3 separate regions of the Homo sapiens genome follow, and all the other regions are linked to region 1. Evidence: fine-mapped expression QTL. A gene starts in region 1. Each other region holds a variant in brackets. All regions are shown on one strand. Distances are from middle to middle. Region 1 holds the start of A4GALT (alpha 1,4-galactosyltransferase (P1PK blood group)). Region 2 has its middle 35 kb from the start of A4GALT. Region 3 has its middle 30 kb from the start of CYB5R3.

The links. PIP is the estimated chance that this variant, and not a neighbour inherited with it, causes the effect.
Region 2: its variant is the best candidate, but not a certain one, in a credible set for the expression of A4GALT in monocytes after R848 (Quach 2016, PIP 0.73).
Region 3: its variant is the best candidate, but not a certain one, in a credible set for the expression of A4GALT in fibroblasts (GTEx, PIP 0.56).

What each region holds. Positions count from the first base shown.
Region 1 is chr22:42,718,233-42,723,756 of GRCh38, reverse strand. It overlaps A4GALT (alpha 1,4-galactosyltransferase (P1PK blood group)), which reads left to right and starts at 2,887. Exons shown (of 3, transcript NM_017436.7): 1 at 2,887-2,960. RefSeq lists silencers at 2,788-2,977, 3,008-3,237, 3,318-3,447.
Region 2 is chr22:42,753,517-42,759,040 of GRCh38, reverse strand. No RefSeq gene overlaps it. Among named protein-coding and RNA genes, the nearest start is that of A4GALT, 35 kb to the right of the region's middle. RefSeq lists a silencer at 1-178. The variant T/AATAAATAT (reference allele first, on the strand shown) is at 3,200.
Region 3 is chr22:42,676,292-42,681,815 of GRCh38, reverse strand. No RefSeq gene overlaps it. Among named protein-coding and RNA genes, the nearest start is that of CYB5R3, 30 kb to the right of the region's middle. The variant A/T (reference allele first, on the strand shown) is at 3,266.

The DNA of each region.
Region 1 (5,524 bases):
GGCAGGCACCACCACATCTGGCTAATTTTTGTATTTTTAGTAGAGATGGGATTTTGCCATGTTGGCCAGGCTGGTCTTGAACACCCGAGCTTAGGTGATCCGCATGCCTCGGCCACCCAAGTGCTGGGATTACAGGCTTAAACCACTGCACCCAGCCAACAGCCTCCGTTTTTTTTTGTTTGTTTGTTTTTGAGATGAAGTCTCGCTCTGTCGCCATACTGGAGTGCAGTGGCATGATCTCAGCTCACTGCAACCTCTGCCTCCCAGGTTCGAGTGATTCTCCTGCCTCAGCCTCCCGAGGAGCTGGGACTACAGGGGCACGCCGCCACGCCCAGCTAATTTTTGTATTTTTAGTAGAGACGGGGTTTCACCATGTTGGCCAGGATGGTCTCGATCTCCTGACCTCATGATCCGCCCGCCTTGGCCTGCCAAAGTGCTGGGATTACAGGCGTGAGCCATTGCGCCTGGCCCAGCCTCCGTTTTTTTCATCTGTAAAATGGGGATAACAGGGTGACCTCAGAGGGTTGTGAGATTAACAAGCTGCAAGGAGACCGTTTCCCCAGACATAGCCAGGAAGAGCTTGTGGGTCTGGGCACAGCTCCAGCGATGGCTATTCTAAGAAAGCCATTCCCTTCTCAATTCTCTTTAATCCCTTTGCTTAAGTCCAGGGGCAAGTCTTTGCTGGGTGCTGGCCTGCCTTGAATATCTCTCTACACCTTTCGAATCTTCCTTTTTTTTCTTTTTTTGAGACGGAGTCTCACTCTGTCGCCCAGGCTGGAGTGCAGTGGCGCGATCTCGGCTCACTGCAAGCTCCGCCTCCCGGGTTCACGCCATTCTCCTGCCTCAGCCTCCTGAGTAGCTGGGACTACAGGTGCCCGCCACCACGCCTGGCTGATTTTTTTGTATTTTTAGTAGAGACGGGGTTTCACCTTGTTAGCCAGGATGGTCTCGATCTCCTGCCCTTGTGATCTGCCCGCCTCGGTCTCCCAAAGTGCTGGGATGAATCTTCCTTTTAACAAGGAGAGGGCAGGAGGAACTCAGCTCTTGGAGGGGCAACAGGACCTACCCGGGCTTTATAACATTGTTTTAGTTTTATTTTTACTGTTGCCTTCTAGTCTCTGAGATACTGGTGTTCCATTTAGGGTAGCAATACAAAGTTTCTCTGAAAAATACATTTGTGATCATGGAAAAGCCAACATAAAGCAAAAGCATTAAAAGTATTACAAGTGGGCCAGGTGCCGTGGCTCACATCTGTAATCACCACACTGTGGGAGGCTGAGGCGGGTGAATCACTTGAGGTCAGGAGTTCAAGACCAGCCTGGCCAACATGGTGAAACCCTGTCTCTACTAAAAATACAAAAATTAGCCATGGTTGTGCATGCCTGTAGTCCCAGCTACTCAGGAGGCTGAGGCAGGAGAATCACTTGAAACCAGGAGACAGAGGTTTCAGTGAGCCGAGATGGTGTCACTGCACTCCAGCCTAGGTAACAGAGTGAGTCTCTTCTCAAAAAAAAAAAAAAAAAAAAAAAAAAATGAGTATTACCAGTGGAGAAAGGGTCCGCATTCATTCTTTTTTTTTTTTTTTTTTTTTTTTTTTTTGAGACAGAGTCTGGCTCTTGTCACCCAGGCTGGAGTGCAGTGGCATGATCTAGGCTCACTGCAACCTCCACCTCCTGGGTTCAAGTGAGCATGTCCAGCTAATTTTTGTATTTTGTAGAGATGGAGTTTCACCATGTTGGCCAGGCTGGTCTTGAACTTCTGATCTCAGGTGACCTGCTTGCTTTGGCCTCCCAAAGTGCTGGGATTACAGGCGTGAGTGCTTGCCTGGCCTCTTGTTTCCGTTTTAAGATGGGAGAAGTAACAGCCTGTGATGGGAATGACCCAGGGAGAATGGAGAGAGGGCAGGGTTTCGGGATCAGTGTTGGCGTGAAGGGTCGGGATCTTCTGGAGGGGGTGGTCGTGGCCAGGAGCTGGACGGGTTCAGCCCGGTCCCAAGAGGGAAGGGACTGGGTGCTACCTCAGCGGGTGGGTGGGGGAGCTGGTGGGAATTTTCTACTGATTCCTTCATTCGAAGTGTATTTATTGGGCACCCATTGAGTGCCAGGCTCTTTCTCAGGGCTAGGATAGAGGTTCCATTTTCTCAGTGGCTTGGGCACTGGGTCATCAGCTGAGTGAGAGGATGGGCGTCAGCACTCAAGAAGTCACCCAATGGTTTCATTTTTTGCAGTCTTTGTTGTCCCAGAGGAGTAAGAACTAAAAGCACCAGGACTGTGACATGCTGGAAACATGGCATGTTCCAAAGAGAATAAAATACAGTTTTATGATACACGAATTGTGTGTGATACATTCCAATTTCTCACATTGAACAAATTACCAATAGCAATATGTGTGAAGATGGGGCGAGGTGAGAGTGAGGAGGAGGAGTAGAGAAAGGACGGGGCGGCGTTAAGGATACAGCAAATAACTGGAATTCCGCAAACACTGGGGTGATGCAGGCAATGCCCTTAGCACGGTCCCGGCAGGAGGCGGTGGGATCAGGCCGACCCGGGTCCCAGGGGTGACAGCGTCCCTTCTCCACTGCAGAATATCGAGGTACTCAACCCTCTGAACCTCAGTTTTCTCATCAGTTCAATGGGGAAAACGGGATGGTAACCCGTAATACTGGCGGCGCGGAGGCCGGGGAGCGCTCCCTACCTGTTGGCCGGCGGACTGGGGACTGTCCGCACCCGCCCCGGGGAGCAGCGAGGGCGCGCGGGCGGGGTCGCGGGGACCCCGCAAGGGCTCTGGGGACCGGGACCCGCAGGGTAGGTCGGGACGGGCGGGGCGGGGCGGCCTGACCCCGCCCCGGGCCGGAGGGGCGGTGCTGCCTCCCGCCGGGCCCCAGGCACTGCCCTCCGGCCGCCGCGCCGCCCGCCCGCCGGGGCCCCGCTGTCCGCCGCCCGCCGCCGCTGGAGCTAGAGGTACGAGGGGCCGCGCCGATGTTGCGGGGGACGGGGGCTCCAGGGGGATCCTGCGGCTCGCAGTGGGGAGGAGGCGCCTCGGGAAGGCAGGGGCAGGGGCGGAGGGGCTGGGCCGCCGCCCTAGCCCGGGCCACCTGTTCTGGAGGCGACATTTGTGCGCGCACGAACCCCGCGCGGCGGTCCCGGCCACCGCCTCCACCCCAACTGCGCCCCGAAGTGGAGCGCGGCGGCGGGACCCGGAGCCCCGGCCCTCGCGGGCAGGACGCGCCTGGCTCCGGAGCCCTCGAGGGCAGCCCCACCCGGTTGGGTCCCGGGGCTGGAGAGAGGGCGTCGGGGAGAAGCCGGGTTCGAGGCAGGCTCTGCCCGGCCACCGTGGGTGAGTCGCGCTCCTCCGTCCGGGGGAAGCCTGGGCGTCGGGCGGTGCTCGCCCCGGAGCGGATGCGACCGGGGACGGGGATGGAGAGCGGCCGGCAGGAGGGGGCTCTGCCGGGCTGGCAGCGTCGGCGCCGGCCTTAGGGAGGGTGAGGATTTGGACCTGCCCAGAAGCGGGAAGGGCCCTCCCCGTGCGGGAAACGGCCTGGGTACGAGCTGGGCACGGGGCGAGCCGGTTGGAGTCGCCCGGCCTCCGCGCTCGCCTCGGATCCGCAGGCGCCCCTCCCTCCTCTCCAGCTGGGGAAGGTTGAGGACTGAGCGGGAGCGGAACTGGGCTTGGGAGAGGATCTGCCGGGGCACCTGGTCCCAGCGCCCATCCCGTTTCACTGCCAGGGCGAGTCCCCTTCCCTCAGTTTCATCACCTGTCATCCGGAGGGACAAGTTCCCACCTGGATAGTCTCGGCTGAGCCTCTGGCCCTGAGTGGGTTAAAGCGCCATTTCCCCTGCACCCACCTTTCCCTCACGACACCCTCTCTGCGGCTTCCTCCCCTCCGCCAACGTCGAGTGATTGTTCCGCGAAGGCCCCTTGGGGTCACGTACCCTGCACTCAGCAAATAACCCCGAGCACCTGGTGGGTCTCAGGCCAGGTCTGGCCTTCCCGTTCCCGCCACCAGCTGCCCAAAGACTTCCCCTTTGTCACCTCCTCCCAAAGAATGAGGGAGCCACCCTGCCCAGGGTCCCATAGCAGAGTGCGGATGGAGCCAGGCCTCCCTCAAGATTTCCCACAGCCCTCTTCCAGCCTCAAACCTTCTCCAGGACCCGAAACCCTGCTACACTGTGTTTCCATAGCTGCAACCCCCCAAAAGAGGGTCCCCAAATCAAAGGAATACAAAGGAAAACAAAATAGAAAGGAAAAGAAAGGAAGAGGAGAGATGGAATCCTCTCTGTCATTAGTTTTCTGTTTGTTTGTTTTTTAGGGTCTCCCTCTGTCACCCAGGCTGGAATGCTGTGGCAGCTCACTGTAGTCTCAAACTGCTAGGCTCAAGCGATCCTCCCACCCCAGCTTCCCTAGTGGCTGAGACTGCAGGCACACACCACTACACCCAATGTTGTCATTAGTTTTTCTCTCAAACATTTTTCTAATGCCTTGGGTGCCTGTCGTTTCTTGTCTGCTAGGACAGCTCAGTATTAGAGGATAAACTCCAAAATGGACAGCCATCTACAAAATATGTTTTGTTTCCTTGTACTAATTGAAGCCCTCTAGCTGCTAGGTTAATGGGTCCATTAATTTCCAGTTCGTGTGATGGGCCCTGGGACCCCAGTGTGGAGCAGGATTGGCAGAATCTCCAGGTGGTTTGTGTGGAACACCAGGAGGTTGTGAACTACCACATCAGCCCCAGCTAGCAACTCCCAAGCCCACCTGGCCACGGGGCCACTGGGTTCAGACCTCCAAGGATGCAGTTCAGCTGGGGATGCAGGTCCCGGAAGGTGGTGGCAGGTGGACGGCCTCCACCACCAAGCCAGCCATCTGAGTTCTGAAGTGCACCTCCTCTCACTCTCCCCAGCTGCCTCCTTCTTTGGGGACCTGCTAGGCGTGCTCACAAACTCCTGTTGATCACCCTGCATTTTCATTGGCTCACCGCATGCTTCCCTCCAGATTGGAAGCTCCTGGAGGGAAGGACCCTTGTCCAGATCCCAGAGCCTAGTGCCAGGCCTGGCACCTAGCAGGTGCTTCCTGAATATTGTTTGAATGAATTAACCGAAAGAAGTAGGAAAAACAATTCCTGTTTGCATACTTGAAGACAACTATTGTTAACATTTGCCTTTTTTTTTGCCAGACCTTTAAAAACACGTTTTTCCAGCCGGGCGAGGTGGCTCACGCCTGTAATCCCAGCACTTTGGGAGGCTGAGGCGGGTGGATCACTTGAAGTCAGGAGTTCGAGACCAGCCTGGCCAACTTGGTGAAACCCCCCATCTCCACTAAAAATACAATAAATTAACTGGGCGTGGTGGCACGTGCCTGCAATCCCAGCTACTCAGGAGGCTGAGGCAGGAGAATCATTTGAACCTGGGAGGCAGAGAGTGCAGTGAGCCGAGATGGCGCCACTGCACTCCAGCCTGAGCAACAGAGCGAGACTCCGTCTCCAAAAATAAATAAATAAATAATAAAATAACACGTTTTTCTGTATTTG
Region 2 (5,524 bases), 35 kb before region 1:
GGGAGCAGTTTGAGGAGGGGTGGGGAGGGTTCAGGACAGGCAGAATAGCAGAGGGAGGAGCGCACTGCCCAAGGGACTTTGCGTCTCTGCACCCTGCAAAGTATATTTATCCTCAACTCACAGATGAGGAGTCCACAGCCAGAGAGGGTCTGTGATAACAGCTGCTGAATGGAGGAGTCATGAGTGCCAGTGCCCGGACTCACCTCCTGCACCACTGCCTGGCCTTGGATCCTACCTTTTCTAGGTGCTCACGTATTCTTGCAAGATCTTTTATTTTATTTTTGAGATGGACTTTCGCTCTTGTCGCCCAGGCTGGAGTGTAGTGACGGGATCTTGGCTCGCTGCAACCTCCACCTCCCGGGTTCAAGTGATTCTCCTGCCTCAGCCTCCCAAGTAGCTGGGATTACAGGTGCCCACCACCACGCCCGGCTAATTTTTTCTCTTTTTAGTAGAGATGGTTTCGCCATGTTGACCAGGCTGGTCTCAAACTCCTGACCTCAGGTGATCCTCCCGCCTTGGCCTCCCAAAGTGCTGGGATTACAGGCGTGAGCCACTGCACCTGGCCTGTCCTTGCCAGATCTTAAGGCCTTGAAGACAGAAACCACGCTGGATCTTTTCTCTCATCCCCAGAGCTCGTTTCTCCAGGCTGGATCTGGGTAGTCCCTGGCTGCTACCAAGGGCTCCTCCGAGGAGTCTGCAGTGATGGAGAAGGAGCCACAAACCCATTTGTCACCTAAATTTCCCAGATGTGCAATGTCAGAGTGGTCCTGATGATTCATAGAAATCTCTCTATGTTCTTTTATTTTTTGTTTTTGTTTTTAGAGACATATCTCACTCTGTCACCCAGGCTAGAGAGCAGTGGTACGATAATGGCTCACTGCAGCCTCGAACTCCTGGGCTCAAGTAATCCTCCCAACTCAGCCTTCAGAGTAGCTGTGACTATAGACAAGCATCATCACACCCGGGTTTTTAGATTTTTTTTGTAGAGACAGGGTCTCATTATGTTGCCCAGGCTGGTCTCAATCTCCTGGCCTCAAGTGATCCTCCCACCTCCCAAAGTGTTGGAATTACAGGTGTGAGCCCGGCTTAGCCCCATGTTCTTAACAATCCTTACATCCTCAGGGGCTGAGCGTGAGCCCCAGGACTGCGCCAGCCAGCTCACCTCAGATGCGGTGTTTGCATCTGATTTGCCGGTTAAAGTCTCCATGTGTTAAATTTGCATTTCCCTTGTTATTACGATATTAGGTTTTATTCCCAATACTCAGAGCTAGAATACATGGCTCAAAGTGATTCACGGAGGCATGCAGGAGTCATGTGATCCCACCACGTGGAACGATCTTGTAAACATAAACAAGGGGCAGGGGAGCCATGCAAATGCAGAGAGGGTCCCCTGCCAGCTAATCCGCAGGTGCAACTGGAAAGAGTAAGCAGGCAGGACAGCCAGGAGCCTGACTGGACAGGCGGGACAGCAGGGACTGACTGGCTCCCACCTAACCCCAGCTCCTGGCAGTGGCTGTGATGCTGCTGTGAGTGCAGAAGAGGCCAGGAGCTCTTTTTTTTTTTTTCCTTTTGAGACAGAGTCTCGCTCTGTCGCCCAGGCTGGAGTACAATGGTGCGATCTCGGCTCACTGCAACCTCTGCCTCCTGGGTTTAAGTGATTCTCCTGCCTCAGCCTCCTGAGTAGCTGGGATTACAGGCATGTGCCACCACGCCCGGGTAATTTTTGTATTTTTAGTAGAGACGGGGTTTCACCATGTTGGTTAGGCTGGTCTCGAACTCCTGACCTCATAATCAGCCTGCGTTGGCCTCCCAAAATGCTGGGATTACAGGCGTGAGACGCTGTGCCCGGCCAGGAGCTCTTTTTCGAAGTGGGCGCTTTGTCTTCTCTAAATTCATAGGGGTTTTTTTTTTCCAGAACAAGCAAAAAATAATTATTTGCAGCAGAAAACGGATTAATTTTTACACTAAAGGCAGAGATGTCCAAATTATAGAGACACCATTCAATGTCCCCTTCCCTCTGGCAAGAAAAGAGAAACAGGTCACACTGTGCTGAGAAGGCAGGAAAACCTGCTTGTTGTGACTGAATTATGTCCCTCCAGATCCACTGGCTGAAACCCTAACTCCCAGTACCTCAGAATGGGACCGTATTTGGAGAGAGGGTAAAGGGGTATTTAAGTTCAAATAAGGTCATATGGGTGAGTATTTAAGTTTTTTAAAAAAGGCCATACTATCCTTATGAGAAGAGATTAGGCTGGGCGTGGTGGCTTACTCCTGTAGTCCCAGCACTTTGGGAGGCCAAGGCAGGCATATCACTTGAGCCCTGGAGTTCGAGACCAGCCTGGGCAACATGGCAAGACCTCATCTCTACAAAAAAATATGAAAATTAGGGCTGGGTGCTGTGGCTCACACCTGTAATACCAGCACTTTGGGAGGCCAAGGCGGGTAGATCACCTGAGGTCAAGAGTTCGAGACCAGCTTAGCCAACATGGTGAAACCCTGTCTCTACTAAAAATACAAAAATTAGCCGGGCGTGGTGGCAGGTGCCTGTAGTCCCAGCTAGTTGGGAGGCTGAGGCACGAGAATTGCTTGAACCGGGGAGGCAGAGGTTGCAGTGAGCTAAGATTGCACCACTGCACTCCAGCCTGGGCACCAGAGTGAGACTCCATCTCAAAAAAGGAAAAAAAAATTAACTGGGCACTGTGGCATGTGCCTGTGGTCCCTGCTACTAGGGGAGCTAAGGCGGGAGGGGCTTGAGCCTGGAAGGTCAACGCTGCAGTGAGTCAAGATTGCACCACTGCACTCCAGCCTGGGTGACAGAGCGAGAACCTGTCCCCCCAAGAAAAGAAGAAGAAGGGATGAGGACATAAACACACACAGAGGGAAGGCAGCACAAAGACTCGGGAATGAGAAGGTGGCCATCTCCAAGTCAAGGACAGAGGCCTCAAAAGACACCAACCCCACTGACACCCTGATCTTAGACTTCTGGCCTCTAGAGTTGTGAGAAAATAAATTTCTATTATCACAGTGGTGCACACCTGTAGTCCCAGCTACTCAGGAGACTGAGGCAGGAGGATCGCTTGAGCCCAGGAGTTTGAGGCTGTAGGGCTCTGTGATTGCATTTATGAATATCCCCACCGCCCTCCTGCCTGGCAAAACAGTAAGACTCTGTCTCTTTAAAAGATAAATAAATAAATAAATA[T/AATAAATAT]TAAAGTAAACTGTTGTTTAATCTACCCAGTCTGTGGTATTTTGTTACGTCAGCCTAAGCTGACTCATACAGTGCCCCAGAGTTCATCTCAGATATTATGTTCAGAAAGTATGATGTTCTATTAGCAAATTTTTTTTTTTTTTGAGAGGAGTTTTGCTCTTGTTGCCCAGGCTGGAGTGCAATGGTGTGACCTTGGCTCACCACAACCTCCGCCTCCCAGGTTCAAGTAATTCTCTTGCCTCAGCCTCCCGAGTAGCTGGGATTACAGGCATGCACCACCACGCCCAGCTAATTTTTGTGTTTTATAGTAGAGACGGGGTTTCTCCGTGTTGGTCAGGCTGGTCTCGAACTCCCGACCTCAGGTGATCCACCCCGCCTCGGCCTCCCAAAGTGCTGAGATCACAGGCGTGAGCCACCGTGCCCGGCAGCAAATTTTTTTTTTTGAGACAGGTCTTGCTATGTTGCCCAGGCCGGTCTCGAACTCCTGGGCTCAAGCAATCCTCCTGCTTCAGCTTCCCAAAGTGCTGGGATTTGCCACGTGCAGTGGCTCACGCCTGTAATCACAGCACTTTGGGAGGTTGAGGCGAGTGGATCACCTGAGGTCAGGAGTTCGAGACCAGCCTGGTTAACATAGTGAAACCCCGCCTCTACTAAAAATACAAAAAAAAATTAGCTGGCCATGGTGGTGGGGCAGGCGCCTGTATTCCTATCTACTTGCAAGGCTGAGGCAGAGGGATCGCTTGAACCCGGGAGGCGGAGGTTAAGATCGCACCACTGCACTCCAGCCTGGGCAACAGCACAAGACTCTATCGCAAAAAAAGAAAAAAAAAAAAAAAGAAAGAAAGTCATCAGTCCAAAGTGCTGGGATTACAGCTATGAGCCACAGTGCCCAGCCCAATGACTAGCAATATTTTGACATTTTGACAAAGCTACCAATGTCTTGGCTCTCAGCCCCTATGCAGAGCAGGAGTGAGGGAGGAATGTTTGATGACTTTGTTCTGCTTATCACTGAGCACCCAAGCTCAGGGAAGGGCTGTGCGTGCGTGTGTGTGTGCGCGTGTGTGTGTTTATCCATGGCCCTGCAAATCAGGAGCCCAGGCTATGTGGCCCCTCCAGCATGAGTGCTGCTTCTCGATTTGACCAGGCTGAGGATCAAGTCAATGATTTTTTTTTTTTTGAGACAGAGTTTTGCTCTTGTCACCCAGGCTGGAGTGAGATCTCCAATGGTGAGATCTTGGCTCCTAGGTTCAAGTGATTCTCCTGCCTCAGCCTCCCGAGTAGCTGGGATTACAGGTGCCCACGCCTGGCTAATTTTTGCATTTTTCGTTTTTTTTAGTTTTTTGTTGTTCTTGTTGTTTGTTTTGAGACAGAGTCTTGCTCTGTCATCAGGTTGCGGTGCAGTGGCACGATCTTGGCTCACTGCAACCTCCGACTCCCCAGTTCAAGCGATTCTCCCGCCTCAGCCTCCCAAGTAGCTGGGATTACAGGCACACACCACCACACTCAGCTAATTTTTTTGTAATTTTAGTAGAGACAAGGTTTCACCATGTTGGCCAGGATGCTCTCGATCTCCTGACCGCGTGATACGCCCGCCTCGGCCTCCCAGAGTGCTGGGATTACAGGCGTGAGCCACCTCACCTGGCCAATAATGTATTTTTAGCTACATCTAAATGCTTTGCCAGAGAAAGAACCTTCTCCAAAGCCAAATGTCACCAGAGAGAGGCTTAAAACTCAGCTAGCCAGGCACACGCCCGGGTCAAGAGGGTGACGTGCTGCTGGTGCGTCGCCAGGACCACACCATGGGCAGCCTCCTGAGGAAACATCACCAGCTTCTGAGGCCAGCTTTTACCCGAACACCCAGAAGGGTCCCGTCTTAGCCCATCTGGGCAGGTGTGACAAATACCCCAGGACCAGGAGGCTTCTAAACAACAGACACTTCATTCTCAAAGTCCTAGAGGCCGGAAAGTCCAAAAGTCAAGGCACTGGCAGATTCTGTGTCCCGTTCAGAATTAGTCATTCTATTTATATATTTATTTTTAGGCCAGGCACGGTGGCTCACGCCTGTAATCCCAGCACTTTGGGAGGCCAAGGTGGGCAGATCGCTTGAGCCCGGGAGTTCAAGACCAGCCTGAGTAACATAGTAAGACCTCATCTCCACAAAAAATCAAAAAAATTAGCCAGGCATGGTGGCATGTGCCTGTAGTCCCAGCTACTTGGAAGGCTGAGGCAGGAAGATCACCTGAGCCTGGGAGGTTGAGGCTGCAGTGAGCCATGATTGCAACACTGCACTCTAGCCAGGGCAACAGAGGGAGACCCTGTCTCAAA
Region 3 (5,524 bases), 42 kb after region 1:
AAAAAAGAGAGAAGAAGGAAAGAAGAAAGTGAAAGAAAAGAAAGAAAGAAGGAAAAGGAAGGAAGGGAGAGCCGGGCACGGTGGCTCACACCTGTAATCCCAGCACTTGGGATGCCGAGGCAGTTGTATCACGAGGTCAGGAGATCGAGACCATCCTGGCTAACACGGTGAAACCCCGTCTCTACTAAAAATACAAAAAAATTAGCTGGGAGTGGTGGCAGGTGCCTGTAGTCCCAGCTACTTGGGAGTTTGAGGCAGGAGAATGGCGTGAACCCGGGAGGCAGAGCTTGCAGTGAGCAGAGATCACGTCATTGCACTCCAGCCTGGGTGACAGAGCGAGACTCCAGAAAAAAAAAAAAAAAAAAAGGAGGGAGGGAGGGAGGAAGGAAGGAAGGAAGGAAAAGAAAGAAAGAAAGAAAGAGAAAGAAAGAGAAAAAGAAAGAAAGAAAAGCAAAGAAAATGTATAGATGTATAGGCCAGGCATGGTGGCTCATGCCTATAATCCTAGCACTTTGGGAGGCCAAGGCAGGCGGATCCCTTGAGCTCAGGAGTTCGAGACCAGCCCGGGCAACATGGCAAAACCATGTCTCAAAAAAAAAATTAAGTAGTTAAATATATATAAAATATTTATATAATACATTTTAAACTTAATCACCAACATCAATGCTGAAATAAATCCGGGGAAGGAGGAAGAGAGGAGAAGACAATAGGAAGTTAGACAGGAGGGGAGAAGAGTGAGGAGGAGGAAAGGAAGAAATGTATGTATGTATGAGTAAAATACGTATACGTTTGTGAGTGTGCGTGCATTATTTTCTTTTGCGTGTGTGTGCATGCGTTTTTGGTTCAGTGGATAAGGAGCCTAACATGGCCAGGTGGCAATCTCAGCTTCTGACTAAGTGGAACCATTGTTGTCTGCTGGTAGAAACACTCCTCTCTTGGGGACCAAGACCTTTACCCCAGCAGAGCTCCAAGTTTCAGGAACCGGAAATGACAATTCTGTGGGTGATGACTCAGTGCAGTCATGATTCCTGGCTGTGTGTTCTGTCATGGAATGTGCGGGTCTCTGAGTCACCACACACTGTATCCTACAAGACAGAGCCTCATCTTTTCAGCGTGTTTCCTCCCAACTGGGGTTGTACCTGAGCCTTCAGGAGGTCATGCCACCACCATGCTGCTGGACCAGCTGTTTCTGGGTGGAGGGGTATCTCAGAGACAATAAGGGCCTACTCTGCCCTGGAAGATCCTCCACTAGGTCATGGAGGAAGCCCACCCAGCAGTCCTCTCCTGTGCTGCTGAGCCAGGCTGGGGGCTGAAGGCAAAGGGTGGTGGAACATCACCTTTGACCCCAGCTTGGTCTAAAGTCCCCAAATGTGATCCCCTCCAGGCTAAAATATCAGGGGGCGTTCATTCTATTTGAGTCTGGGAGGAAACAACAGGGATTGATCACAGTGAAGGCTCAGTGAGAAACAAGAAATGCACACCTCCACAACCCTGCAGGGTAATATTCAAAATAAAGAGCATGACTCCCCACAACAATGTGAATGCACTGAACACTCCTGAACTGTACACTTACACATGGCCAGAAGGATCGATTTTTATCTTGTGTATATTTTACCACAATTTTTTTGTGTTTTGAGCCAGGGTCTCGCTCTGTTACCCAGGCTGGAGTGCAGTGGCTCAAAATGCCTCCCAGAGTGCTGAAATTCAGGCATGAGCCGCTGCACCCGGTCTTATTATTTTTTAATAGAGAGAGGGTCTTGCTATGTTGCTGAGGCTGGTCTCTAACTCCTGGCCTCAACCAATCCTCTGGCATCAGCCTCTCAAAGTGTAGAAATTACAGAAGCGAACCACTGCACCAGGCTTGTTTTACCATGACTAAATTAAAATAATAATAATGAGATGGGAAGTGTGAGGTAAGGTCAGTGTATTACTCCATTTTCACACTGCTATGAAGAAATACCCTAGACTGGGTAATTTATCAGATGAGATTGTGCGTATTCAGGGTGGTACAGCCATCCACGAGACTGGGTAATTTATAAAGAAAAGAGGTTTAATTGACTCACAGTTCTGCATGGCTGGAGAGGCCTCAGGAAACTTACAACCATGGCAGAAGGCACCCCTTCACAAGGCGGCAGGAGAGAGAATGAGCACTAGCAGGGGAAATGCCAGACACATAAAACCATCAGATCTCATAAGACACACTCATTATCATGAGAACAGCATGGGAGAAACCGCCCTCCATGATCCAGTTACTTCCACGTGGTCCCGCCCTTGACATGTGGGGATTATTACAATTCAAGGTGAGATTTGAGTGGGGATACAGAGCCAAACCATATCATTCTGCCTCTAGCTCCTCCCAGATCTCATCTCCTCACATTTCAAGACACAATCATGCCCTTCCAACAGTCCCCCAGAATCTAAACATACTCCAATACTAACCCAAAACTCCAAGTCCAAAGCCTCATCTGAGACAAGGCAAGTCCCTTCTGCCTATGAGCCTGTAAAATCAAAAGCAGGTTAGTTATTTCCTTCCTGACACAATGCAGGTACAGGCATTGGGTAAATTCACCCATTCAAATGGGAGAAGCTGGCCAAAATAAAGGGGCTATAGGCCCCATGGAAGTCTGAAATTCAATAGGGAAGTCACTGAACCTTTAAGTTCCAAAATGATCTTTGACTCCATGTCTTGCATCCAGGTCATGCTGATGCAAGAGGTGGGCTCCCATGGCCTTGGGCCGCTCTACCCCTGTGTCTTTGTGGCATATAGCTCCTCTTCCTGGCTGCTTTCACAGGTTAGTGTTGAGTGTTTGTGACTTTTTCAGGCACACAGTGCAAGCTGTTGGTGTATCTACTGTTTTGGGGTCTGGAGGATGGTGGCCCTCTTCTCACAGCTGCTCTATACAGTGCCCCAGTGGGGACTCCGTGTGGTGGCTCCAATCCTACATTTCCCTTCTGCACTGCCCTGGCAGAGGTTCTCCATGAGGGCTCTGCCCCTGCAACAAACTTCTGCCTGGACATCCAGGCATTTCTATACATCCTCTGAAATCTAGGCAGAGGTTCTCCAACCTCAATTCTTGACTTCTGTGTACCTGCAGGCCCAACACTTCGTGTACGCCACCAAGGCTTGGGGCTTGCACCCTCTGAAGCAATGGCCTGACCTGACCTTGGCTCCTTTTAGCCATGGCAGGAGCTGAAACAGCTGGGACACAGGGCACTATGTCCCAAGGTGGCATAGAGCAGTGGGACCCTGGGCCCAGCCCAGGAA[A/T]CCATTTTTCTCTCCTAGGCCTCAGGTCCTGTGATGAGAGGGGCAGCCGTGAAGGTCTCTCACATGCCCTGGAGACATTTTCCCCATTGTCTTGGTGGTTAACATTCAGCTCTTCATTAGGCAAATTTCTGTAGGCAGCTTGAATTTCTCCCCAGAAAATGGCTTTTTCTTTTCTATCACATTGTCAGGCTGCAAATTTCCTGAACTTTTATGCTCTGCTTCCTCTTGAACACTTTGCCGCTTAGAAGCTTCTTCTGCCAGATACCCCAAATCATCTTTCTCAAGTTCAAAGTTCCACAGATCTCTAGGGCAGGGGCAAAATGCTGCCAATCCCTTTGCTAAAGCATAGCAAGAATGACCTTTACCCGAGTTCCCAACAAGTTCTTCATCTCCACCTGAGATCACTTCAGCCTGGACTTCATTGTTCATACCACAATCAGCATTTTGGGCAAAGGCATTCAACAAGTCTCTAGGAAGTTCCAAACATTCCCACATCTTCCTGTCTTTTGAGCCCTCCAAGTCTCTAGGAAGTTCGAAACTTTTCCACATTTTCCTGTCTTCTTCTGAGCCCTCCAAACCGTTCCAACCTCTGCCTGTTACCCAGTTCCAAAGTTGCTTCCGCATTTTCAGTTATGCTTATAGCAGCACCCAACTCCTGCTACCAATTTACTGGTCTGTTCTCATTCTGCTATGAAGAAATACCCAAGACACTGGGTTTTGTTTTGTTTGTTTTTTTGTTTGTTTGTTTGTTTGTTTTTGAGAGGGAGTCTCGCTCTGTCACCCAGGCTGGAATGCAGTGGTGCGATCTTGGCTCACTGCAACCTCTACCTCCAGGTTTAAACAATTCTCCTACCTCAGCCTCATGAGTACCTGGAGTTACAAGCACCTGCCACCACACCTGGCCAATTTTTGTATTTTAGTAGAGATGAGGTTTCGCCATGTTGACCAGGCTGGTCTCGAACTCCTGACTCAAGTGATCCACCCACCCTGGCCTCCCAAAGTGGTGGGCTTACAGGCATAAGCCACTGCACCTGGCCAAGACTGGTTAGTTTATAAAGAGGTTTAATTGACTCACAGTTTCACATAGCTAGGGAGGCCTCAGGAAACTTAGAATCTTAACAGAAGGCACCTCTTCACAGGGTGGCAGGAGAGAGAATGAGTGCCAGCAGGGCAAATGTCAAACGCTTATAAAACAATCAGAGCTCATGAGACTCACTCATTATCATGAAAACAGCATAGGGGAAAACTGGTCCCATAATACAATTACTGCCACCTAGTCCCACCCTTGACATGTGGGGATTATCACAATTCAAGGTGAGATCTGGGTGGGGACGCAGGGCCAAACCATATCAACTAGGGACCACTGTGACAAAATCTGTGTCTGAACTTGAAACCCATCCAACAAATATGTGTCAACACTAATTGTGCTTAAAAAACACAAATGCCAACCCTAAAGTTCCTCAGATTTCAGGAGAATGTCAGCACCTTCCTTCTTTGCCTTTAGCAATTCAATATTTTAATAGCAGTGTGAAACTTCCTCATGACAAAACCTTTTCTTTTTTTTTTCGAGACGGAGTTTCACTCTTGTTGCCCAGGCTGGAGTGCAGTGGCACGATCTCAGCTCACCCCAACCTCCACTTCCCACGTTCAAGTGATTCTCCTGCCTCAGCCTCCCGAGTAGCTGGGATTACAGGCATGTGCCACCACCCCGGCTAATTTTGTATTTTTAGTAGACAGGGTTTCTCCATGTTGGTCAGGCTGGTCTTGAACTCCTGACGTCAGGTGATTCGCCCACCTCAGCCTCCCAAAGTGCTGGGATTACAGGCGTGAGCCACTGTGCCTGGCCCCCTCCTCCATTTCTGCCCCTGCCTCGAGCCTCTCCAGGGTTTGGGCTTGAGCCCCACCCACTCCTGCCCCAGAAACCCCTCCCAACTTCAGCTCTACTTTTGTAAACTCCAGCCTCTGAGCCCCCTCATCCTGTTCCCTGTCCCAGGGAAGTCCCCCACCTGCCTAACAGGCCTCAGAGCCAAATCAACCCAAATATTTCTTCAACAGGAAACTCAACATCCCAGCCACGCTGGGAAAACAAGGCTTAAAAAAAAATGAGAGGCAATAAAAATCCCCAAATGACTCTGTTCTGTTTTGACAGAGGGGAAAAAAAAACAGGATTTCACAAACTGGATTTTTGGCATTGCAAAATGGTCATCAACTCTCCCAACTTCCCAAGAGACTGAAAGGAAAATTCCCAGAGCTTCTTAC